Linked DNA regions of Homo sapiens: region 2 is linked to region 1. Evidence: fine-mapped expression QTL. A gene starts in region 1. The other region holds a variant in brackets. All regions are shown on one strand. Distances are between the middles of the regions. Region 1 holds the start of ZNF212 (zinc finger protein 212). Region 2 has its middle 9.8 kb from the start of TRC-GCA22-1.

Region 1 (5,379 bases):
TGAGCTCTTCCTCTGTGCCAGGTACTGTTCTAAGCACTTGACTTGAATTCACTCATTTAATTCACACAACTCTATGAGCTAAGTACTGTTATCTATTCACCAATAATCATGAGGAAACAAGTACTAAGAAGTTAAAGACCTGACCAAGTTTCACATCTAGTAAGTGGCTGTGATGGTGAATACTGAATCAACTTGATCGCATTGAAGGATGTAAAGTATTGATCCTGGGTGTGTCTGTGAGGGTGTTGCCAAAGGAGATTAACATTTGAGTCAGTAGGCTGGGAAAGGCAGACCCACCCTCAATCTGGTGGGCACAATCTAATCAGCTGCCAGCACAGCTAGAATATAAAGTAGGCAGAAAAATGTGAAAAGACTAGACTGGCCTAGCCTCCCAGCCTACTTCTTTCTCCCATGCTGGACCCTTCCCACCCTCGAACATCAACGAACATCAGACTCTAGGTTCTTCAGTTTTGGGACGCAGACTGGCTCTCCTTGCTCCTCAGCTTCCAGATAGCCTATTGTGGAGCCTTGTGAGCATGTGAGTTAATACTTAATAAACTCCCCTTTATATAACATTATATATATATCCTATTAGTCTGTCTAGAGAAACCTAATATACTGGCAGTGCTGGGCTAGGGACCCAGACGGTCTCACTCCCCAGCCCCACTTAGCAAATCACTGTGCCACACTGTCTTCATCAGCCCGGGGGACTGCAGGCGCCACACCATCTCCACCAGCCCACGTGATTGCAACCCTGGTGCCTGGTGCTGCCTCCTTTGCAGGCTGGAAATTTGATCTGAACCTTTTTCCAGACTTCCAGGCTCAGAGTCTGGGATGCTGAAACATGCTCATTTTCAAGAGACTGAGGTATACATGTGCATCAGCTTCACCTGCATGTTGCCTCCCAGAAGCTACCTGGCAACATGCAACGTCAGAAGGTTGCCTTGTGAGTATAGAAATAGAATAGAGGGAATGAGTTCTACGACCGAACTGTTTAATGACCTCAGCATCCTATGTCCTGATATTGTGCCTGTGGAGGATAACATTTTTATTTTATTTTTAAAGACAAGATCTTGGTCTGTTGCCTACGCTGGAGTGCAGTGGTGCGATCGTGATTCACTGCAGCCTTGAACTACTGGGTTCAAATGATTCTTCCACCTCAACCTCTTGAGTAGCTGAGACTACAGGTGTGCACCACTACTCCTGGCTCATTTTAATTTTAATTTTAATTTTGTAGAGACAGGGTCTGCCTATTTGCTCAGGTTGGTCTCAAACTCCAGTGATCCTCCTGCCTTGCCCTCCCAAAGTGCTAGGATTACAGGCATGAGCCACCTCACCCATGACACATTTTTTTTTTTTTCTGTATCTGACACCAAGAGTTTGTTGGTCTGAGAGATTAGGTCAGACCCTCTGGACAGGATCTCCCTGACTGACCGGTTTCTTCAGCCTGGCCCATTCTTTCTCTAGATTTATTAATGATTCAGTGACGTGCCCGTTGATCTAGTTGCCCTGGAAATAATGCCTCTGTTTGAGATGACATTTCATATCCTTACACTCTGATTCACCATTCAATCATTTACAAATATGAACACTTCTGTGTACAACAAATGGAGGATACAGTAGACAGACATTTCAGTGGAAGAGATACAGATAATTAATATGTAAATGAGTGAAAAAGAGAGATTACTTCAGATGGTGATAAATGGTATGAAAAATTTCCAGCAGGGTAACGAGATTGAGTATTGAGATGGAGGATGGTGTGGGGCTGTAGAAAGGGGGGACTGGGGATATCTCTCTGAGGATGTAGAATCTGAACTGAGCCCTGCATGTGAGGAAGGAGCCAGTCATGATCTTAAAAGTTTCGTTCTCCGCCGGGTGGGGTGGCTCACACCTGTAATCCCGGCGCTTTGGGAGGCTGAGGTGGGCGGATCACCTGAGGTCGGGAGTTTGAGACCAGCCTGACCAACATGGGGAAACCCCGTCTCTACTAAAAATACAAAATTAGCCAGGCGTGGTGGCACATGCCTGTAATCCCAGCTACTAGGGAGGCTGAGGCAGAAGAATCGCTTGAGCCCGGGAGGTGGAGGTTGCAGTGAGCCGAGATTGCGCCATTGCACTCCAGCCTGGGCAACAAGAGCGAAACTCCATCTCAAAAAAAAAAAGTTTCGTTCTCAGAGGAAACACTTCACGCCTATCCTGTGAAGTGGAAGTTCATTGCTTGTCTCCAGAGAGACAATGGTATAAATTAGGCAGCTATGGTTGCCGTAGTGTTGCTGGTATTGGGGATTAAGTACATGGCGATTAAATGGTCATGTGGCCGTGCTTTCCAACAAAAATTCCAGACACATCGTCTTACATGTAGCATGAGGACTGGAAATATTTGAAATCAGGGTTGTCTTGGACTTTCCAAGGCACATGATTACCATAATTAACAGGCTACAGAGGGCTGGCCTGGGCCTGACCCCACGCTCCACACTGTTGATATGGAAACTGTTCCCAGTTTCTAAAAAGCCAAATAACAGGTGAACTTTTGGAATAAAATCACTTGCCTTTTGGAACCATATTTCTTTTCCCCAACAACATTACATGTTCTTTCCTCAGCAAAAAGTCTGAGTTGTACACATTTTTGAATCCCTCAAAGCATTTAGCAGAGTGCTGGGCATACGGAAGACAGCAGGATCCCGTGGCTTTGCCTGAAACGCGGAACCTGGTCTTGACTTTTGAGTGACTGAGCCCTCCTGGTGCCCGCACTCTGGCCGGGAGTGCCAAGCAGCGTTCTCCCTCCCGCCGCACGGGGGCACAATGGGAAGCCTGCACAGTGAGGAAGAGCGGCTGGAGCCGGTCTTGTGCCGGGGAGGTCGCTGCTCCCAGAATGCACCTGGCATCAACACGGCGGCGGCGGCGGCGGCTTCCAACAGGCTCTGGGGCGCCGAGCGGACAGGAACGCAGCACGGGGGCTCCGAGGCGGGGTCTGGGTGTTGAGGGGCGACTGGAGCCATGGCGGAGTCGGCGCCTGCTCGGGTAAAGAGGCACCGGCGCGCTGGCTCGAGGGCGCGTTGGGGATGGCGGAGTCCCCTGCCGGGGGCGGGGCTTCGCGGTTTGGACGCCGCCGGGGTCTTGGTTTCCCGGGGCTGCCGTTGGCGCGGGTGAACGCGGACCCTCCTCTTCGCGACCCCAGTGCTCTGCCCTTTTTTCCCTCCGCTTCCTTCTGCAGCGGGGTCGGAGCCTCGGCGCCGTGCGCCCTTGCCCAGAAACTTCTCTGACGCTTGCTTTAGGTTGGTGGATTTGTGACCCTGCCCACACATTTTCTCTTTCGTGCCAAAAGAGCCCGTTCCCAGGTTGGAGTGTTTCCAGATTGGAAACGGTCTCCGTCGCTACGAGTGAGCTCTCCCGCTGCCCGGGAGACCCCAGGACTTGCCTCTCTGCGACCACCTCCTCTTCGGTCCGATGTGTTGTCGGTTTTTCCAGTGCTGCAGATTTCTGTCTGGGGGTTGCAGCCACAGGTTGAAGTCAGCCTGGGCTGCTTCTCCTTGGGGACGGATGTTATCTACAGTGCAGTTGCTGCATTTTGTTTGTAGAGCTGCCCAAACTCTCTCCTTCACCCCCCCCCCAACACCCCCCTCCCAGCCCACCGACCATCCCCATTCTGGGAATGTCAAGATACGGAGTTTGGTGTGAGGAAAATCCTATTTGTGGAGTCACGAAGCTTTCAGCTGTCCATTTGGGTGATTTTAGGCAACTGTGTTCGCTTCTCTGGGTCTCTTTCGTTTTCTTAACTGTAAATCGAGAGTGTTGGAGTAGTTGCTAGATGATCTCCAAGGCTTTAAGTTTCCTTCCAGCTCCGACATTCTCATACTGTTCCCATACTGTTTCAAAGTAGTGGTTAATTTAACAACACCAGAGGGTTTGCAACGGAAGGGGCAGCTGGAATTGAATTGACTTTTAATGAAGTGTTCCTTGGTCTAGAAACACTTCGAGAATCATGTTAGATCTTTGTGAGAATGGAGGGCTAAGGAAATTCTGTGGGGAAAATTTGACCATGAGCAGGGTGCGCTATATTTGATTCTTGTAGAAAGTGCGTTAAGAACTAAGAACGGAGAGATTGGGAGACTTAGAGAACACAGTATTTGCTTTCAAGGAAGTTAACAGTTGAATTGGGAAGACAAGACACAAATGTTTACAATATTAACCTCATCTGACTCCTATAAGCTAGGCTGAGCCAGTCAAAGACTTGGCTTTTCCACAAGATCTAGTTAGTGTTAGAGTCCGGCGAGAGGATTCTGCCACAGTTCTTCCTGCCAGGTCACTCCACAATTACCTACATGTCGTCAGTAGACCTTGTTAGGAAGAAGCCTTAAAGGTCCACCACAGGCCAGGCGCAGTGGCTCATGCCTGTAATCCCAGCACTTTAGGAGGCCGAGGAGGGCGGATCACGAGGTCAGGAGTTCAAGACTAGTCTGGCCAATGTGGTGAAACCCGGTCTCTACTAAAAATACAAAAATTAGCCGGGCGTGGTGGCGGGTGCCTGTAGACCCAGCTACTCGGGAGGCTGAGGCAGAATAATCGCTTGAACCTGGGAGGTGGAGGTTGCAGTGAGCTGAGATCGTGCTATTGCACTCCAGCCTGGGTGACAGAGCAAGACTCTGTCTCAAAAAAAAAAAAAAAAAAAAAGTCCACCACAATCCCAAACTATGCCTTAAATAACATGAATCTGTCGTTGTAGAACTTATTCAAATTGTTCTTGAGCCTGTTTCTCTTCTCAGACATTTCAGGTGTCTGTCATTTAACAGTAAGCTCAAGTAGGTGCCCTGATGAAACAACTGAAAATGCTGGAAAACCCTGCACATAAATGCATTTGAAATGTATTTTAGTAAAGAATACTTGGAGCCCCAAAACTTAAGCGAAAGAGGAAACTCGAAAGTGATAGAGTTCTGAAGCCAACTTTGAGGGCATTGGCCAAACATTCATCTTTGGTGTTTATGATTCAAGGGACCTGCAAAATGGAACACACATCTCAGAGCCTAAGATGGAAAGTCTAAGAAGCTCCCTAACCCAATCCCATGAAGCAGAGAGTTCAAAGGGTAACATTCTGTGTAAGGGTGAACTGAAAGTAAGGTCTGACCTTCAGATGATTGCAAAGTAAGTTGTTAAACCTTGGCACTGAGATTACAGGCGTGAGCCACCGTGCCTGGCCATAGTTTCGTTTCTTTTCTTTCTTTTCTTCTTTTTCTTTTCTTTTCTTTTTTTTTTTTTTTTTTTGAGAGAGTCTCGCTCTCTTGCTCTGGCTGGAGTGCAGTGGAGCAATCTTGGCTGCCTGAAACCTCTGCCTCCCAGGTTCTAAGCGATTCTCCTGCCTCAGCCTCCGGAGTAGCTGGGATT
Region 2 (5,379 bases), 330 kb after region 1:
TAACTGTGTCCAGCTCAAGAACATGTTTCCTTGAAATAAAGAGAGTTTGGGAAGTTGCAGACATTCTGATGCATTGTTTGTAACTTTTCCCAAATAAATCTTACTTTATGCTTATACTAGTGGTATTTGTCCTCGACATCTGGCTTAATTTTATCAAAATTGACACAAGAAGAAGTAAAAATCATGACTAATCATGGAACAATTAAGGAACTTGTATTTTCAATGAAACATTCTGCCATTAAAAAAGTAACAAAAAACTTCCAGGCACAGATAGTTTAAACACTTGTTATACCAAACACTTGTTATACCAATCACTTCAGAATGAAACGATGTAAGTCTTACACAGACACTTCTGGAGAATAGAAAACTAAAAGCAGCAGTCCCTTTCCCACCTCATTTTATGAGGTTAAACTTATTATAAAAAATAACAAAGACAATGTAAGAAAACAGGCCAATCTCACATATTAATATAGAATAGACTTTAAAAACCATAAGCAAAACTATTAATAAATCAAAGCCAGCATTACATAAAAAATAACACATAACCAAATTAAGATCATTTCAGAATGTAAGCTTGACTTAACATTAGAAAAATCTATTACTGTAATTCACCACACTATAGGATATAGCAAATGCTGTTGCTGCCCCACTGATATTCCTTCAGAACTTATCAGTTCTGTGCATGCAGGCCCCAATTTCAACTGTCAGCACCTGTAACTTTATGTCTGAGGGCATTCTCAGGCTGCCCAAACATGTAACAGGCTGAAAGTACCAAATAATTAGGACCCAACCTTCGAAAGCAACCCTCTACCGATGACTGATAGCAGTAGATGGAGAAATACACAAGTTGCCTTGTTCTTTTGGAGAGGATAACCCTCAAGCATGTTATACATCTTACAAAGTCCCCAACGGTATTAAGCTCCAGTTGCCTATAATGGTAACTTGTCCAATATCCCACTGTGAAAGTTGTCAGAATGAAAATGGAGTCACTTGTGTTAAAACCCGGCAAATGGAGCCAGGGAAGGCCACAAAGGTAGAGCTTTTATATATGAATTCCTGATAACAAGAACTATCACAAAAGACTGTAAAAACCACAACCTTGCACAAAGGCCATTGTAACCTTACACACTCACAAAAAATACTTCTGCAAGGACATCTGCCCAGCAAAAGCCTGACTAGCCTTGGACTGTTGCCACCCTTGTTACTGATTGCTAGAGCCAAGAATTATTTCTCCAAAACAATTTATATAATCCTTCTCATTTTGCCTTTAAAAACTTTCCCTTACCATGACCTCCTCAAAAACACACATAGTTTACTGTGACACCTGTATTCCCATTGCCAATGCTCATTCCCTAAATAAATATAATTTCCTTTCAGAGAGCTTCCGTCTGTTATTTAGGTTAACACCACCTTTTATTGGCTTCTTTCCTTTCTCTGACTTCCCACTCCTTACTGGTGTTTCCTGAACTTACCTCCCAAATAAACTACTTGCTCTTAAATTCTAGCTTCAGGGTCTGCTTCTAAGGAAATCCAAGCTAAGACAACAGATTAAAGGAAAAAAATCATGTCATTAAAATAGATGAAGAAAAACATCCAATCAAATCCAACACATCTTCATGATGTGTCTACCTAAAACATAAAAAGAAATCTTATTTAATGGTGGGATGGTGAAAGCTTTCAATTGAAAACTGAAAGCAAGACAAAAGTGTTCTTAAAGGAGAAATGGAAACTGAATTGAGGAGCAAAAGGCTATCAAAATTCACCAAATATATTTTTAAAATAAATCAACTAAGACATTCCAGAAATGAAAAGTATCAATGTTTTCCTTTTTATTTACTTTTAATTGAAATACAACTCACAGTAAGGTACAGAAATCTTCAACGTACAGCTCAATTAATTTGTACACATACATACCTATGTACCCACCTCCCAAATCAAGATACAGAAAATTTCTAGCACCTCAGAGGGCCCCCTGGGTCCCCTTCCCAATTACCCTCTCTCCCGAAAAGGTAACACTATTGTATCACCATGGACTAGTCTTGCCTGTTCTTGATTTTATATACTGGAATCATACATAGTTACTCCTTTGAAACTGTTTTCTTTCACTCAATCTTATGTCTATAGGATTTATCTGTGTTTTTCCACTGTAGTGGTACTCTGTCCTTTTAAAAACTCTGTTTGGGATTCCATTGTATGACTAGACCATGACTTATTTACCTATCCTACTGTTCATGGACATTTGTTTCCAGTTTGGGACTATTAAAAGAAATGCTGCCATGAACATTCTTGCATGTACATATACATTCTCTGATGTCTGTATCAAGGAATATAACTGTTGAGGAAGAGGGTGTTTCTATTTTTACTTTTAGCCAATAATGTCAGATGGTTTTCTAAAGTGGATACAGCAAATGACACTACCACTAGCAGGGGATGAGAGTTACTATGGTTCCACATACCATCACTGAGTAACATCAGTCTCTTTCATTTTAACCAACCTAGCAACAATTCTAGCAATAGTTCACTGTGGTTTAACTTGCACCTTTCTAGACTCATGAGGTTTGAGCATCTTTTAATAGGCTTATTGGTCGCTTGGATGTCCAGTTGTATGAAGTAACTGCTCGAGTCTCTTCGTCATTTTTCTACTGAGTTGTGTATTTTTAATTGTCTTGTGCAATTCTTTACATATTTTGGGTATAAACCCTTCATCAGTTATGTGCAATAGATACCCTCTCCTGCTGTATGAGGTTTTATTTTCTTACTTGTGTTTA[T/C]TGGCTCTCATGAATGTCAGCTGATTTCCCTGCGAACTTTTTAACTGTTCAGCAAACAGTATACAGAAGTTACTACGTGCCAGTCCTGTCTTCAGTGCTTTACACAGATTAACTCATTCAATCTACACAACAATCCATCAAGTAGACACTCTTATTACCCACATTTCACAGTAACAAAGTTGAAGAAAGGGAAGGGCAGTAATCTGCCCAAGGTCTTCTAGTGGGGTAGGCCTTGAAGCCAGGCTGTCTGACTTCAGAATCCACACCATTGGTATCCACGCTGCACTGTTTCTCCCAGGCTTATTGTACTTGTCCAAACTCTATCGATAGGCATTCTTTGAAGCATAGTTCCTGATGCAGTCTGGGGAGGATTTTCATTTGGCCAGGAGCCTATAGCACTACACATCCAACTGCAACATGAAATAAGTTGCCTGTAGTTTTTCAGACCCAATAAAGACTGTGAATTCAGGGCCCATTAAACCCCAGTCACTCAGCCCGTGGCTAGGGATTCTCGGGACTGGTTTTCTTTTTCCTGTCTTCTCTTCACTCCTTCTGGAAGAGCTCAGCCCTTCTTGTATCCTGTCTTTGTGCAAGGCAGTCTCCTTCCTGATTCCTCACCATGTGTGGGGCCTAAGACTTCTTCCTAGAAATGCCCGTTCATCACTGTACTACTGACACCTGGCCTCCAGAATCCAAACAAGTCCCAGCCTTCCTGGACTCAGGCTGCTGCCCAGCCCTGCCAGCAGAGCGTTCTGTGCTCCTGCAGGCTCATCAATTCTTTGCATCTTCCCTGGCAGTCCACCCTACTGCCAAAAAGGAAAAGCAAGAGGATTTTAACATTATCATAGAAATCATGGTGGAAGTCAGTGTTTCCCCAGGCTCTTGGGCCTGCAGCAGAGAGAAGTGGCTGGCTGTTGACTGCCTTCTGAGAAGGCTGCCAGGACTACAAGGCAAAGTCCTGTGGGTAAAGGAGAAAATTCCAGTAGCAGGGAAAGGCCGTTTACAGAAGAAGAGTTTGCCAGCTCCTGTGACAAGAGCAGAAGTAGGGCCTTGGCACAGCTGAGGAGGTGAAAAGGTATAACCCAAGTGTTACTCCAAGTATTCTTTCTAGGTGGGATGGGGCTCTGTCTGTCATCAGAAAAGGTCACATGGGATGCTGGAAGCAGTGGCTCATGCCTGTCACTCCAGCACTTTGGGAGGCCAAGGAAGAAGGGTCACTTGAGGCCAGGAGTTTCAGACCAGCCTAGGCAACATAGTGAGACTTCATCTCTACAAAAAAATAAAAAAGATTAGCTGGGTATGGGGGCACCCACCTGTGGTCCCAGCTACTTAGGAGGTTGAGGTGGGAGTATTGCTTCAGCCCGGGAGTTAGAGGCTGCAGTAAGCTATGATTGTTTCACTGCACTCCAGCCTGGATGACAGAAAAATACCCTGTCACTTAAGAAAAACAATGCAAGCCAAGTGGAGTTGTTCTGTAGCAACAGTTTTTGGTCATGAAACTATGGTAACACTGGCCCTATTAATGCTTTTGGGAAATCTACTCAGCTACACACTTCTCACTATTTCTTGGAGTTGCTCCTTCTCTATCATTCTTCATTTGTATTAACTGAAGAAGTAAAAGTTGAAAGAATCATCTTTTGTCCTAGACTGCAGTTGTGCTGAATCTGCCCTGAATGGAATACTGGGCTAGGAGAGCCAGACCTAACTCTGTCATTAAGTGTGTTAGGATAGACACCTCGGTCACACAGTTTCTCTTGTACATGCCCACCATAACAGGTACTGGAGGTTGACTCTCAAGGCCATTCTAGCAGCCACTGGCAGTGCTTTTCCAGGCTGCTGCCCGCAACCAAGGACTCAAGGCAGCGAAGACACAAGATCCAGGGTATTTGAGAAGGGGACACTGCCTCTTGTTATGCACAAGGTCAATGAGTTTTCACTGAGGTAGGCCTGGCAGCTCCTAGGAGCTTCCATTGCGAAGTGGCAACGCATAGGTCATCTGGGTGTGACTGTACAAGTCAAAGACATTAATTGAACCCCACAATAGCAGGAGGGGGCATAGCTCAGGGGTGGGGTGTTAGACTACAAACCAAGAGGCCACCACTTCGATTCCAGATACCCCCTCCGCATTTTCTATTTTGACATTTGTAGAAAGTAAAAAGTTTTGTTTTCAAAGTTTCTCTTTTTATTAAAAAATAAATCATAAGTGTTAAAAGTAATAGTTTCTTTTAAAAAACTAACTTCTTTCAAGCCTCTTTGCTTTGTGCCGATAACTCTTTATTAAACCTTATCTTATGTAGCTGTTACATATAAAAGAATAAGTACATTCTATGTTTTGTACTTTAACCAAGATATTTGTGCTAAACATGCTTACAAGCACATTCTAGCTCGCATCCTGTGTCCCTTCCTCATTAAAGAATGTTATTACTTTTCTAAGTCTTTTCATAAGCAACTTCCTCTTTTCCTTTCTTCTCCATTACTTTTACCTATTTTAAAAAGTTTTAAATTGGAAGCTAATCAAATTTAGTTTAAATTATAAAGTCTAGCTCCAGCCAATAGAGACAAGACACAGTAGAAAAGACAAGCTACATAAAACATAAATGTGCTCTGGCCA

What was found. PIP is the estimated chance that this variant, and not a neighbour inherited with it, causes the effect.
Region 2: its variant is the best candidate, but not a certain one, in a credible set for the expression of ZNF212 in whole blood (TOPMed, PIP 0.55).

Annotation. Positions count from the first base shown.
Region 1 is chr7:149,236,782-149,242,160 of GRCh38, forward strand. ZNF212 (zinc finger protein 212) reads left to right here and starts at 2,870. Exons shown (of 5, transcript NM_012256.4): 1 at 2,870-3,021. The coding sequence starts at 2,998. RefSeq lists an enhancer at 2,637-2,931.
Region 2 is chr7:149,563,828-149,569,206 of GRCh38, forward strand. It overlaps the pseudogene ZNF767P. Among named protein-coding and RNA genes, the nearest start is that of TRC-GCA22-1, 9.8 kb to the left of the region's middle. The variant T/C (reference allele first, on the strand shown) is at 2,769.